Linked DNA regions of Homo sapiens: region 2 is linked to region 1. Evidence: fine-mapped expression QTL. Tissue or cell type: whole blood. Region 1 holds a variant in brackets; the other region holds the start of a gene. All regions are shown on one strand. Distances are from middle to middle.

Region 1 (8,000 bases):
TAAGCATGGGATCATAGACCCTGGGCTTGTGGGGAGCTCACGTACTGGCATCTGGAAGGCACTGGCTTCCCCACTTGGCTATTTGAGTGGGTGCTCTACCCTTTCAGGATGAAGAATTGCTACCATGCCACCTGTTACCAGTGGAGGAAGGAGAAGGGGAATGTGTCCTAAGTAGGTGGGTCAAAGCCCTCCATGTTTCCTTGAACGTGCTAAATGGCTCTCTGGCTCTTTCTCTTGATTTCTACAAAGAGTTTCAAGGAGAGCTTAGGTGAGCAAGGCCCTACTTCTGCAAAGCCCTAAATAGGAACAGGTGTGTACTGCTCTTATCATTGGGCCTGCATTTATCTCATGGCAAAATCTGGCATGAGCAGATAATTTAGAGACATAAGTTATTCACATGACATAGTTTTTGAAGCTTCATTTTTCAAAGTATTTAACTTTATTCACTTTTTGGATTTTCTTCAGTTCGTGTTCAAGACCAGGGCATGCAAGGAGAGGACTGTACATGAGGAACTGGCTAAAAATGTGACTGGTCTTTTGAAATCAAATGACTCAACAACAGTAAAGCATGTCCTAAAGGTAAGAATTTAAAGATGGTCCTTTAACTGTGAGTACTAGGCATGGGTCACGCTTACTCCTGGAAAATGATAGGAGTCATGGATTTTCATAGACTTTTTCTCTTGCAGTTTCCAGCATAAGGTTCATATTGAAACTTAGCATATAAAGATACTAAGCAAAAGAGATCTATATCGAGACAACATAGAAAAAAGTAGAGTGGGCCAGGTGCAGTGGCTCACCTCTGTAATCCCAGCATTTTAGGAGGCTGAGATGGGCAGATCACCTGAAGTCAGGAGTTCAAGACCAGCCTGGCCAACATGGTGAAACCCCATCTCTACTAAAAATACAAAAACAAAATTAGCCAGGAGTGGTGACAGATGCCTGTAATCCCAGCTACTCAGGAGGCAGAGGCAGGGGAATCGCTTGAACCCGGGAGGCAGAGGTTGCAGTGAGCCGAGATCATGCCATTGCACTCCAGCCTGGGCAACAAGACCAGAGAGAGAGAGAGAGAGAGATACATAGATAGATATTGTATGTTAGAAAAGAAGATGCATTAGAAAAATTGTAGAACAGGTAAGAATTGGGCATTGTGAGTGCTGAAGGTGCAGGGGAGATTTGAAGTTTTAAATAGAATGGTCAGGATATCTGATGGAGGAGGTAATTCTTGAGCAAAAAAAAAAAAAATTTGAAGGCGAAGAGGGTGCTGGCCATGGGGATGCTCAGAGGGAAAGACCTGTGTGAAGTCATCAGGCAGCAGCATGGCTGGTGTGTCTGCAGGAGACAGGGAGGACACTGTGGCAGGAGACAGGGAGGACACTGTGGCTGGAGCCAAGTGAGCAGAAAGAAAAAAAAAAGATGGACGATGAAGTCATGGAAGCCACTGGAGGCTTGGGAGTTAGCATAGGCCAGGCGTTCCCACTCAGAGCAGAACTGGGAGTTGTGTCGTTGGAGGGTTTTGCACAGAGGAGTAATGTTTTAAACCAAGCTGACCTTGGTTTAAAAGGATCCCTCTGATTGCTGTGTTGAGAATCGACTACAGTGGGATAAAAATGGAGACCACAACCACTTGAGGGGCTATCAGAGAAGCAGGATCCTCTGGGGAGAGTCACTGCTCAGTTAAAATATGGAGTGAAGGGAATGCTCGGAGAAGAATTGCATCTTCAAGAGATTGTGCTAACGATGGACCATGTGCTCTGGAAGGTGGGGTGGGTGGGTTTCAGGAGATTGGAAGCAGTGGAATGTGCAGATATATAAGGGAATATGTGGAGAGGGCAGTAGAGGAGTTGAGGCTTCATCTGTCATCAGACGTGAACAGGCAAAAGCTCAATTTCATTAGTGCTGGTGGTTTCAAGGAAAATAGTGGAGGCAGGCCAGAGTGCTAAGGGATGGAGAGGGGTAGGAGTCTGTTGAATTAAGAGACAAATGTTGGAACACTTGACACGATGGCTCAAAATATTTTGGACAAGATTAGGGAAAGAGGATTGCAGCAGTGTGCCTGGGATTCATTCATATTCCTAACAACATGTTTCACTTCTAATAGCCATTAGAATGCTATTGGAGTGCTAGAATAGTATTGGTAGCCATTTCCATTTCTTCTTACTAAGAAGTGACCACTTCATTAAGCCATAGCTGCCTTTGTAGAATATCAATCCCTTCTCTTTTTTATCTGAGTCAGTCTTCTGGAATTAGGACTGTCTTGTCAAAAGTTTATCGCAGCATTGTTTGTATGACTTAAAACAGGATATAATCCAAATGCCCATTGACAGTAGAGCAGATAAGTACATGGTGATTATATATGTCATGTGGTGACCATATGTGATCCCCCCAGCTACGTGCTTCAACATAAACGAACCACAGAACAGAATTTGTTGAATGAAAAAGGCAATCTCAGAAGAATACATAGAGGATAGTTCCATTCTTATGAAGTTCAGTGGCCAGATGAACTAAATATCCCTTCATTGTATAAGTATTCGTAGCAAAATTGTGAAGTAAAGCAAAGGAATGATTAGCACAAAATTTAAAACTGTTATCTGTGGTGGAAGGAGTAGGAAGCAGAGAGGATGCAAGGGGTGCGTTCTTGAAACTATACATATACAATATGACTTTTTGTAGCTGAGATAAGTGTCACCCTTAGGCCCAAGAAAGAAGGGTGCCCATCCTGGGATGAGCTTTGTTCTTCTCATACTGCACCTGTCCTCACAGGCCAAGGTTTAAGAGGAGCTAAGAGAACAAGCCCACCAGGAGCCCCTACCTCCCCTTCTAGACCTGTAAGGAACCCCAAGACCCTCTTGCTCAAGGTCCTATAGGTGGATTTCCAGGCCTGCTTCAATCTCTGTCCCAAGCCCTCCAGGACCTCCAGAGGACAGGTCTTGATGCCTGAGTGCAACCCTAGACCCCATTAAGGAGCTATTTGCGGCAGGGAGGAGGGCCAGGTTGTGGACAGCACTCAGATGTGCAGGCTGGACAGTTTCCAAAAGAGCTCAGGC[G/A]TACAAGGCCCTACCTCTGCAAAGCCCTAAGTAGGAACAGGTGTGTACTGCTCTTATCATTGGGCCTGCATTTATTTCATGACAAAATCTGGCATGAGCAGATAATTTTGAGATTGAGTTATTTAGGTGACATAAGTTTTGAAGCTTTGTTTTTTAAAGTATTTAACACATGCGCACCAGGCCCCTCAAGGGGCAGGACGGAGCCTTGGGCGAGAAGAAAAGGGGCAGGCCAGGCCCTGTGCCCCCCAGGACCTCACACCCTGGGGCAGCATTCCAAGGTGTTATGAAGTTTTGTTTCTCGAGGTAGGAGGATCAAACATATTTTATTTAACACATTTTCAGCTTGACTTCCAACTTCTAGATATCTAGACATATGACCTTCCATTTTCACCCTTACCTCTAACCTTTGAAATTTGAGGGGTGAGCTTGGTACAATAAAAAGTTTGTTTAGGTCAGGCTTGGTGGCTCTCAACTGTAATCCCAGGACTTTGGGAGGCTGAGGCGGGAGGATCACCTAAGCCCAGGAGTTCAAGACCAGCCTGGGCACCATGGTAAAACCCTGTCTCTACGAAAAAACACAAAAAGTTAGCTGGGCATGGTGACCACATCTGTAGTCGCAGCTGTCCGGGAGACTGAGGTGGGAGAATCACCTGAGCCGGAGAGTTCAAGACTGCAGTGAGCTGTGATTGCACCACTGCACTCCAGCCTGGCAACAGAGTGAGACTGTCTCAAAAAATAAATAAATAAATAAATAAATAAATAAAAGTTTGTTTAGTTTTGTTTAACTAGGTGAAACAACTAGAACATCCCTTGAATAAATATTTTGTAAAACAACTGCTTAGTCAGTCATGCCAAATAAACTTGTAACTTGTTTTAGTTTAAACATTTTTTGAGAGGATTGAGATAAAAATCATCCCACTATAATAGAGAATATTTTACTGCTCTAATTCATTTAGTTTCAAAGAATACATTTTAACATAACAATGTTATAGTATTACATATTGCAAAGAAAAAATTATCATTATTTTGCCATAGGATAATAAATGTCTCGTTGCCTTTTTTTTCCCAACAGCATTCCTGGTTCTTCTTTGCAATTATCCTAAAATCGATGGCACAGCACTTGATTGACACAAATAAAATCCAGGTAAGAACATAAGTAATATAATATTATAATATTTTTACAATATTATCCAACAATTACACTAATGATTATGCTGTCATGAGTTCCATTTTTATTTGCTTTATAAACCTTAGCAGTTTACAATAATTACTTTATAAGTAGAAGAAATGATTGTGTACACCAACCGGCACAGGCCCTTCAGAAGCAGATGCCAAGACAATATTGGAAGTGCAAAAGATGTATTGGAGGGAAATAACTATAAAGGATAAAAGGAACAGGAAAAAGAAATGGGAAAGTCTGATACCTGTAAATGAAAAGGGGGAAGGAAGGAGGATTGGCTAGGAAGAGTCTCACAGTGACAAGGTTTTAGCTGGGCTGATGGGAAGTCTGAGAGCAAAGAGTTGTCATTAGAGGAACCCTGCACTGGGAAGGCCATCGGCCTCCAGGACCTTTGCAAGCTAAGTCGTTGACTGGGAGCAGCCTGGGGGGAGGGTAGCCTTGGCATGAATGCTGGAGCATATTGCAAGATACAGCAACTCTTTATATTCTTCCCACTAGATTCTGTCTTGAAGGAACATTTGAGCGATGTGCATTCCTGGCTGCCACAGTCCAAGTTTGCATGACATATTGTACAAGTTCATGAATCTGCTTCCCTGCAGTTCCCATGGGCCTCCCCTCCTGAAAGGAAGCTTAGAAGAGGGACCCTGATGGAATTAATTACAGCCCCTTCCATGGCTTTTCAGGAGCCTATGTATTACTCATCATCTCCCATCCCAACTCTCCATTCTAGATCCCTCTCACTCTAACTAGCAGCTCCGAAGGTCTTGGTGACTCACCTGGTGATATGACCCAAACCCTCATTCTAGAGTGGTCTCAGCCTCTGGTCATCATACTCTACTCACACCAGAGTTGGTACCTATGGCCATTCACAGTTACAATGGAGTGAGGAAGACCAAGAAGCAGCCAGGTAGATCACCTGAGTTCCACACACATTTCTCTGAGCCCCCATTGTGGGTAAGGCCAAGGGAAGACCTCTGGCATTGCCCCTGCCCCACGTGGAGGGTAAATCATAACAATGCTGCATGAGGTGGGGTTGGTGGTGTACAGTTATATTATTTTGATTTACTCTTTTGGTGGGGAAGAAGCAGTGTCAGAAGCTCCCACCTGGCCTCCCCCACTAGGATACCTCCACAGACCAAGCACCCGTGCAAGCTTACTCCAAATGCCAGTTTTATTAATACAAATTATACATTTGGGACCAGTTACATGACTATTGGGGGGATCTTTGAACCCAGTGGATCTACTGTTAACAGAACTTTAGTCAGGACTCCACCTTTAATCCCTGTAAGTCCCCACTCTATCAGGGCAGACATGGTGATGCTTTTCATTTCTGGATATCAATGTCAACTCAGATTCTGTGTGCAACAGTCCTTGAACTATATGCCCTTCTTCTCAGTGTACAGTAGCCTGAGTAAATGGCTATAGGGCCCTTTGGAGAAGAATTGATAGACTCATTACAGTATGTATCTACTGCATTGTTGCAGTGGGGGCTTTCCTTTAGGGACCCCATCACCTCTTCAGTCAATGTGTACCAGATCTGAATTGTGACTCAGGTCCAGGAACAGACAAAGGAACCATGACTATTCATTGGAATGAACATCCCCATCTTCCAGTTGCCCATTCTTGCCTTCTTTGTTAATATGATGTACCACCATTGTTGGTTGCTCTCTGTTTTGTCCCTAGGAGTTCCAGTCATCATTAACCAGCTCTACAACTCCCTGAGAGTCGGTCCCTCTTGGCTTCCCCACCAGTCTTGTCATTTGTCATGATACTCACAGCCCCCTGGCTCCTGGAGATTAAGCACAGCACATGGCCTCTGTTGTTTTGGTGATCCCTGATCCCCATGGCTGCTCATGAGCCAAGACTGTGACTGCTCCTCCTGCCAACAGATGGGAAACACCCCTGACCTTCTTAATGATATTGGTCCCCAGCACCTTCTTAGTGGCCATGGTGCATGCTGTCTTCTGGGCCTGCCTGGGGAACTTGATACACTGGTGGATCTTCCAGTCTCAATTAATGTCCATTCCTGTATATCCACCTCCCTCCACCTCTTTATTTTTTCCTCTATCCTCTGCCAGGACAACCAGACATTTCGACTTTGCTTAAAGTAGGCCATCTCTAGATTCTCAGAGCAACCCTAGCAGTGAGTTGCTCATCCCGTGAGTCCTTATTTAATCCCATGTTCTGAAAAAGCACACCCATGTCAATGCATTCTAAGTTACCTGCCCTTACTTTCTGGCCCACATCCTCAATGTACAATTGCAGAGGTTCTGCCCTACCTCCTGGTGGTACATGATAGCTAATTTTTATAGCCTCTTTGGGTATATTCTCTTTCCTGCTTTATTAGGCCCAGCAAGCCCCCAGCTGGGTTAAGCTAGGATTTAACCTCCAGGTATTGCCCTGATCACCAGAAGGAGAGGCGGGACAACTCCTCAAGGGTTTGCCTGATTTCTAGCAGGGAGAGGCCTTTGCAATATCATCTTGCATGGGAGGAGTGCTGACACTTAATAGGGAGGAATTAAACTTCTGCTAGCACTAAGGCTTCAGGGAAGTGTGCAGAGCCACTTCCTCAGAGTCATCCATCCAGAGGTCCTCATCCATGCTTCTAGGCCCCAGGTCTATGTAACCATGGCCTTGATCTTAGTATGACAGAAATGGCTTGCTGGACCTTTAATCATCTGTGGAGTTCCATAACTCTTAACTCGCAAATCCTATTTTTGCTTTTCTGCTATTTCTGCTCTCCACTTCTGGAGATGAGAGCCTCCTACCTGGGAGGGAGAGAAAATCTAACACAAAGGTAAAAATGGTTCGTATCTCTCTGTTGTTAAGCTCTACTGGGGTCAGGAAACCTCACTGTTGCAATTCCTGCTCTGTCACTAACTTGTTAGCTGACGAAAACGACGCTTAACATCTCAGTGCCTGTTTTCTCATCTGTAAGAAGAGTGGATTGGACTAAAATTCTCTTCTAGTTCCTACCAGTATGCATCTGCTTGTATAGACAGGTCACAAAACACACCTGTGAGCAGCCTAAGAATAAATGAACTGATAATAGCCAGCATGATTGTGTCCAGCAGTTTATCTTCCCCGATTGAGGTTTGCTTTCCGTGACCCCTTTCAGTGGTAACCCTCACACCCTAGTTTTCTTTCAGGAGCCCTGCACCTTCCACTCTAACCATCTCTAATCATCACAGTGGGAAAAGACCTGATATCATCTTTTTTCTTTACTTTTTTTTTTTTTTTTTGAGACGGAGTTTCGCTCTGTCGCCCACACTGGAGTGCAGTGGCACGATCTCGGCTCACTGCAAGCTCCACCTCCTGGGTTGAAGTGGTTCTCCTGCCTCAGCCTCCCAAGCAGCTTGGATTACAGGTGCATGCCACCACACCCAGCTAATTTTTGCATTTTTAGTAGAGACGGGGTTTCACCATGTTGGCCAGACTGGTCTCCAACTCCTGACCTTAGGTGATCCACCCACCTCAGCCTCCCAAAGTGCTGGAATTACAGGCATGAGCCACCACGCATGGCCCATTTTTTTTTCCCCTTGATACACGGTCTCACTCCTGTTGCCCAGGCTGGAGTGCAGTGGCACAATCATAGCTCACTGCAGCCTCAACTTCCCCAACTTAGGTGATTCTCTCACCTCAGCATCCCTAGTAGCTGGGACTACAGGCATGGCCACCAAGCCCAGCTAATTTCATATAGATGATTGATAGATGATAGATAGATAGATAGATAGATAGATAGATAGATAGATAGATAGATAGATAATTATATATAT
Region 2 (8,113 bases), 210 kb before region 1:
CTTATGTACGGTGGGGGCAATATCACATGTCCCATGTGCATTTTAGAATGAATGATTGAGAATCAAATGAAATAATGAGTGTGCTTTGTAAATGGTGCAACACTAGACAAACTTGATATAGTTAAGCACTGGGACATGGTGATGCCCAGGCTGACACCCAGGGTACACTGGGCTTGGTATCACTTAGGAAGGGTGGCTCAATGCCATGGAATGGATGCAAGGAGTATTTGCCCCACCTCCTACAATCTCTGGGTATCAAGATCTAATTTAGTCATTTAGTGTGCAAATTTAGTTATTCGTCCAAGAGTCACACTCCTAGACTAATAACTAAATTTACACACTCTTATGTCTGTAGGTATTTTGGAAAATATAGTACAGTTTTCACATTTATACTTATTACTGCTATGAAAAAATTTCTGAAGTCTTTCCTTGCTGATAAGACATGGACACAGTCATGTAGAAGGATGACAGGAGAGGGCTATTGACAGTTGTGGTTTCTTAATTCTATAAAGCTTTGAATTGTACCAGGTCAAGTAATCAGTGCTTACTACATCTTATGAAAGTAAGTGATGCTTTAGTATGAATAAGAAGAGTATCAAATTTTAAAGAAGGAAGAAGGGAAGGAAGGGAGGAAGCAGTGAGGGAAGGAAAGAAAAGGACAAAGAGAGAAAGGAAGAAAGAAGAAGAGAGAAAAGGAGGTAAGTAAAGAGGGGAAGAGAAAGAGAAGGCTAGAAAATTCCATGTTATTGAGACCAATTTTTTCAATCTTATTTAAAAAGTCATAAAAATATGAAGTATAAAATGTTAACATGGGTCCATAGACGCTCCATCTCCAAAATCTTACTCTCACCCCCTACCCACTCACCCATGAGCACCAGTAATGTTTTTTAAGTCAGTTCCTCTGTATGAAATTGAGCTTTTTGGAGACAGAAACATTTTGCTCAGCTCTGTGCCCTCCTAGCATAGTGTGAGATCCTGTCCATAGTTGATATTCCATAAGTGTCTGTTGAGTGGGGTTATTTCTTCCTCAGTGAATGGCTTGTCTCGTGACAACTCAAATGAATTGGCAAATTCAAACACTGATAAAACTTGATTGCAGCCTCTGCATTCTATGTATTAGTACAATCTTGATTTGAGAACATTTAGCAAAATTTGCAACCACTGGTTTCTAAAATGTCTGTTCCATGCATTTGGGGAGCTCTTTTAATGATCCATCTACAATTTTAGACAGCGAGACATGGGATAGATGGGCTGAACAACCCCATTTTATAATATATTAAAATTCAAGTGAAATAATATATGTGAAACTATTATCCAAACTGTAGCACATTATGTTATAGTTACATATTGTTACACAATAGTGGGTTAATACTATAAGGATTACATTGTTATTGTTATTCTTGTTCATGAAATTCCATAGTCATTGATTTGGGTTAAGACATTGTCTCCAGAATGCTCATTAAATCCCCAGCCTTGGCTCCAAGATAATACCCATCCATCCTTCTTCTCGCAAAGGTTCATATGAGAATCAAATATATGAAAAGACATGGAAGTTTGTTTAATTCCTGAGTTATCTGCAAGTGTAGGAATAATAACAGGGTTCATATGAGAATCAAATATATGAAAAGACATGGAAGCTTGTTTAATTCCTGAGTTATCTGCAAGTGTAGGGATAATAACAGTTATTGAAGTCCATGTGCTAGTCACTTTTGAAGAAATTTACACTAATTTAAGTAACTCTCTCAGCAGCCCAGCCACACAACTACTATCTTGATTGCGTAGGTAAGAAACTGAGGCTTACGGAGTTGGGATTTGAACAAAGGTAATTGGACTTCAGAGCATGTATTTTAACCACTATTCTACAATATTACAAGCCCTTGAAGATTCTCTTATTAACTAGCTGTTCCAAGAAACTTAACATACTTCATGATATGTGCACAGATTTGCGTTTACCAAGCATCTGAGCCGAGTTTCTCCAGGGATCTGAGAGATGGGTGGCCAGCAGAGTCAAGGTCCCAAATCAGCAGACCTGAAGTTACATTTCTGTAGCAAAAAATAAGTGTATTTATGCTACAAGGGCAGGGGCAAGGGTCGACACTCAGCTCTCTCTCCTTGGTGCCCGAAGGAAGCTTAACTAAAACCTACATGATCATAAGGGCGGAGGAGAGTCTCTGAAGTATCATTATTGACATGCCCTGGGTGTGAGAGGTATGCTATCAACACTTAAACCTGCCTTCCTACTCGGTGTGACCCACGGAATTAACATCATACAGGGTATGGATTGGGCAAACAGGCATTTGTTCGTTAAACCCTCTCACACCAGTGCTCTGGGTGACCTCCTGAAGCTGGAAAAAGTACAATTAGGTGTATTAATTGTACGATTAACAAATTGTAAGTGACTTTCTGTTACTCGATATTGTTGGAGATTGGGTTGTGTGTGCTACTCAGTGTTTTGGATCAGCGAGTTGCCTTGTGCAGGGCACATTCTGATGTATTATCGATTACTATAGCCTTCCCTTTCAGCACACCTTTCTCTTCTCCTCTCTGACTTTCTCTGTGTCAGGCACACCCAGCTCTCTGACTGCACTAGCCCATCTGAGCCCTTTGTAAAGTCATCCATAAGCTGATATTTATTGAGTGCCTACGTGTGCCAGGCAGTGTTTTGAAACCAGAGACAAAGATTAGGTACCTCTTCTTGGGAAGCTCAAGTTAATTCAAATGTGCTTAATCGGTTCTCTCAGGGGAATATGCATTCAGAGACATCAAGTCTGGGTACACCTGGGAAAGGGTACGGTTGGAGGGAGCTGTTCCTACAGAGATCTTCATGTACCAACACAGAGGCAACCACCTACTTTGCTTACCCTGAAAGGTGGTGTTGCTCCCACACTGAGTACCAATATGAAAGCATACAATACAGGTACAGTTATTTGTTATGCAGGCTGTCTTGGAACTAGATGATGTTTCAAATGGCACTTCCCAAATCTGCCAGAGCCTCTTACCCTCTTACGCCTGTTATGATTTCTAGAATGTGCTGAAATGATCCCCAAACAGCATCTCTGGCTAATTGAATCCTGGCTAACAAAGAGCTGACTAAAGTGCATTTATCAATTGCTTAAGAATTCTTTATACCCAAATGTGACCTTGTGTTATAACTATCTATCATTGGCTTTAGAAAGTGGCAGGGTCATGGATCCATAAAAAGCTGTTAAGAAAAAACCAGACCACTTGGAAAGGCTGTCCCAGATCTCTCCAGACCAGTATCCAGGGGCCAGAACTTCTCTGCCCCCCATCCAGTCCAACACTGAATTGCAGAACCACCCTGGGTATGACCCAGGAAGAGACTTCTTAGAAGGCTTTCATCAGATACCTATCTAGAGGCAAAGTGCAGGCTAGATGGGTATGGGCAAGAGAAGAGCAGAGACAGCATAACTGTGAAATCCACCCCCGACCTGACCACCCTACATAGTAACCCTGCCAGTTGGTTCTTGCCTACTCATCCTAATGCCACCCAAAGTCTCTTACCCCCAGAACGCTGATTTATTGGTTTTGAGTTCGTGTTAGTAGCTTAAACTGTCTCCTTGATTTCTCTGTATTTGTTTATTTGTTCGCTTGGTTACTTGCTGTCTCCCACCCCTACCCCGAAAAAACCTATCAGCTCTACACAGCCTTAAAGTGTAGTTGCTAAGTTCCTCTCCGTATCCTCAGTTTCCAGAACAGTGTGAGCTGGCATATAGTAGGCGCTTAATAAATACTCATTGAAGGAGTGAATGAATGGGGAAGCTTATTCCAAGGCCCTGAACATGGACTTCTGGCAAGGGAGCCTTCCAAACGCTGGCTTGGGCGATGCTGCTGGGATCCCAGCCACCAGATCTTTAATAAGCCTCTGACCCCTTCCCGAGGGTGGAAGGGCGAACCGAGCTTGGCCCCCACCCACTAGCCGGACCCAGAAAATAGAAGTCTAAACGGCAAATGCATCCAGGGCTCCAACTCTCCCAGCAACCTCCAAATGAGGCTGACGGCCTTGGACAGGCGACGGCCTTGGACAGGCCCCGCCCGGAGCCCCTCGGCGGCCGCCCCCCGCCCTCCCCCGCAGCCTGCAGTTCCCCCGGGCGGCGTGGACAGCCCCGGCCGGCCAGCTGAGCCCGTGTGGGCGGCGCGGGCAGGAGCCGCCCCACACGCGTCCCGCGACGCCCGCTCCAGATGCGCCGCTGCAGGGCCCGGCCGCCAGCCGAGTTGGCCGCGCGCGCCCGGGGGAGCGCAGAGTTTGGAAAGTCTTCGAGAAGCTTCAGAGGAGGGAAGGGGGTGGGAAGAGTGGGGGTGCAAGAGAGAAAAACCCGCCTCTTGCGAGTTGAGCGAGGAAGAGGGGGGGGAAGGCTCCGAGTTCCGCTTCCTGAACGGCGGGTGGATAGAGAAGGTTGGCGCGGGGAAGACCGGCGGGAGGCGCGCCCCGGGCCCGCGGCGCGATTGGCGTGACCGGCGATGGCCGGTGAGCGGACCCGCAGGTTCACCCGGAGCCTGTTGAGACCTGGGCAGGCGGCCGAGCTCCGGCACAGCGCCGCGTCCGCCGCCGCGGTGGCAGTCAGCAGCCGGCAGCAGCAGCGGGTGAGTGCGGCGCGTCCTCCGCGCCTTCCCGCGCGCCCCAGGCGCCCGGGGGGAACGGAGCCCAGCTTCCCCAAAAGCTCGGCGGGCCCAGGTCCCCGCAGCTCACGGGTCCTCTCCTCCGCACTCCCTCCCCCGCCGCCTCTGCGGGCTCCCCCGGCGCCACCTCAGCGAGGCAGCGCCACCGACGCGTAAGGACCGGGGGCGCGTTTGTGCACGCGGGACGCTCAGAGGAGCAGCTGCGTGGGTAGCAGAAGCGCAGCGTGGGAGAGGATGTGCAGGGGCTTTAATGGGGCGCGAGGGGGCCGGAATGCACCGCCAGTCACACTGGTGCTAAGTGATACGAGTGCCAGAGACCCCGGGTGGGGTGGGGGGATCTACAGAACAGAACCCCTGAGTCCGGAGGTCTGCGCGTCCCTCTCACCCTCCAGTAAACAGACCAGTGCGCTGAGAGAGAGGGATGCAGTCCGTGGTCCTCGCCCTGGTTAGAGCTGGGGCCCCCCGACGTTAACTATCGCAGAAATAGATGTACTTGGAACAGCCCTCCCACCGCAGGGTAAAAACCCACAAACCACTTAATACTCCTCCAGAAAGGGCTGAGGAACACAGGCTGGAGGAGACGTGGGTCATTAGGTCTCCAGCGGTTTCTGATATTTTTCTAAGATGTTTCGCGGGGTTCTCCCACCAGCAATGCTTTACTGGTTACTTCCTTATTGAAACGGCTTCTAAGTGCTGGGTGATTTCCGCGGGAAGTCCCTGGGGCAGCAGCCAGCATCTGATGCTAGGATCCTATCCATACCAACCCAGATGTTCCTGCGTTGCAGTAGGTCCACACTGCCGGGGAGAGGTGGCAAGAGACAAATCAACTCTAGTGGAAACGGGAAGCGAGTGGGAACAACAGCCTCACAGCAAGACCGGGGCTCAGCAGCCGCGCTCTTGGCCTGCGTTTGGTGGACCGGAATCCGGGTTGTGTGTTTCATTTTCTTTTTTGCCAGAAAATATCATTAGGAACTAAACGGCTCTTTTTAAGAGTGTGAAAGTGTTACTCTTGCCAGTCACCAATGAGGAGGGCGCCAAAAGCTTCCCAGAGCCAGTTCCCACAGCCAGGACTATTCTCTAAAGCCAGAGGTCGGAAAGTTGAACAGAACGGAAGCAAATTGCCTGGCAGAGGGAAGAGGCATCGGGTGCCCAGGGGGTGTAGAGCGGGCGGGGGTGATTGGAGTGTGAAACGAATTGGTGGCCAGGGTGCCTTCTCTTGCACTTACACTAGCTGCAGTCCGCAGTTACCCAGAGGTGGTTCAACTGTTAGCTCACTCTGTGCCAGGGACAGCATGTGGTACTGCTATCAGCGTGCACATTTTCAGGACACCAAAGACAAACTGTTCAAAAGAACATTAGAAGAAAAGATTCAATTCGAGTAAAAGTAGAGATAAGAAAATCTCCACACAGTAGTAGAAAGTACTTTTTACTTTTGAATGATCATTCAGAATTGTGGTTTTGTCATTTTCTGCCATTCCCTTGACAAAAACTTTATTTTGCAATTGACTCATTGGACTGAATCTCACTGAGGATCTGATGGAAACACACAGCGTTCAATTGGAATAAACAGCTTAAACTGTTGTGTGTTTTTTTAAATGTAGATCCTCCTAGAATTTTTGTGGCACTAGAATTTCTATAAAGATTATGTATCCCAGATACCCTTCTACACCACACACACACACACACACACACACACACACACGCACTGCTTTCTCCAAAATTATGTCAGATTTGAAATCCTAGGGTATCTTGTCAAAATGAATAAGCTCGCTGTCTTTAAAAAGAGGTGGGGGAGGGGAGATTCAGTGGCAAAGGTGGTCCTGACTCCCCTTGCTTCGCTTCAGCACCTTGGCCAACACTCCTAAACTAGCTTTTGCCAAGACATTTCATGGGATCTTACACATCTAGGCAGGCAGTTTTGGCTGCTATTTTGGCAGCAAGAACGCATGTGCTTTGCATACTATCCCATCAGTTAACTCTTGAAGGGAAACAGGAAGGTGATGAGTTCTCTGAGCTGGCACCTGAACTCGGTGGGATTCTGTGGGTGTAGAGCATCCCTTCTGAACCTAAAACCGTGTCATTGGACTATGTGGTAGAGACTAATCTTAGCGTACATTGATGCAATCCCTTAAGACTCTTCATATCTGTTGCTTCAAGTTCTCAAAACATGGTTGTCAAGGGAGAAAAATGATAGGATGTTGGGGAAAATATTATGGATATCCGACTTCAGTACAGACTCATAGAACCGCGGGTGTGTATTGGAGCAAGCCATCCTCTATTGCAAGGTATTTGAAAGAGACTAGAAACTCCTGCTGAGAAAAAGTATCTTACTGCTAGATTTGTATATTCCCCTTTCTGAAATCCCTGTCTTGGGGACACAAATCCTCCAGGACATTGCCAAAAGATTGCCATAGGGTTTGAATTCTGCTCTCTCCAATAAGTTTAGGTAAGGTTGTCAGGTTAACAAGATAGTTTTCTTCCCTGAGAATGGGGTGTGTATACAGAGAGAGAGAGAGAGAGAGAGAGAGAAGACAGGAAGCCTTCAAAATGTGTTTGAATATGGAGAGGAGAGATCAAGGAGATGCTGAGTGAGGGTAATGACTGGGAAAGCCAAATTTTAAGGCAGTTGTTGAGGACAATACAGGTGTATGCCAAAGCAAATTTGATGTCAGTTTTTACCCAAAGCACTGTATGTAGTAGGCTTATGTACTTGCAGACTCCTAGACACGAACCACCTTATTCTTCACCCCTCCCAAGAACAGTAATGAACAAAAACATACATTTCAAAAGGAGAAATATTTGCTCCTTCATTATCCTAAAATTCCCCATAGAAAATAAATGAAAGACAACTCATTCGAAGATCAATTCAAAGGATCATGTCAAGTTCTCATAATTTCCTGAAATCTCATTCCTGATTGTTTCATAAAGCAAGCTTCTCTAGGGTAGAATTTCAGCCCGAAAATGATTAGAAACATTTGTCTCATATCAGAACTGGAGTGTTTTATTACATTGGTTGAATATACATACCATGTTGGCTTCAAAGTTGTAATGCCACTAATTAGAAATTCCTTTTTGATAAGAAGCTCATCTTTTAAAATGAATGAAGTGTATCTGTACCCTAGCATGAATTAGTTCATTTAGATAGCTTTCTATAATTCATTAAGATATACATTTAGGATTTGTGCACTTTTCTGCATATATATTGTATTTGAGAGCATTTCAAAAGAAAAGACTTTTTAAAAAAAGTATAGGTAAACTTTTTGCAAACACCCCATCAGATCTGTCACTTTGAGAGAAATGGAGTTTTATTTATGGAATGTTTTAGGTGGGTTAGTGCAATGGAAGGCTTCAGATAACCAGAAGGATGAGATCTACATAGAGTCAGATGATGGAAAGGAAGCATTTACTAGAGATCAAATAATCATTTGGTCAGTTTTAGCCCAAAGCCGTTCATCTATTTCCTAGACTGGAGCTT

What was found. PIP is the estimated chance that this variant, and not a neighbour inherited with it, causes the effect.
Region 2: it holds the start of DOCK10, and the variant in region 1 is fine-mapped to the expression of DOCK10 in whole blood (TOPMed, PIP 0.94).

What each region holds. Positions count from the first base shown.
Region 1 is chr2:224,826,729-224,834,728 of GRCh38, reverse strand. DOCK10 (dedicator of cytokinesis 10) reads left to right here. Exons shown (of 56, transcript NM_014689.3): 26 at 466-579; 27 at 4,117-4,188. Among named protein-coding and RNA genes, the nearest start is that of CCDC195, 110 kb to the right of the region's middle. The variant G/A (reference allele first, on the strand shown) is at 3,045.
Region 2 is chr2:225,038,741-225,046,853 of GRCh38, reverse strand. DOCK10 (dedicator of cytokinesis 10) reads left to right here and starts at 4,386. Exons shown (of 56, transcript NM_014689.3): 1 at 4,386-4,602. The coding sequence starts at 4,480. RefSeq lists silencers at 3,990-4,359, 4,550-4,789 and an enhancer at 5,340-5,679.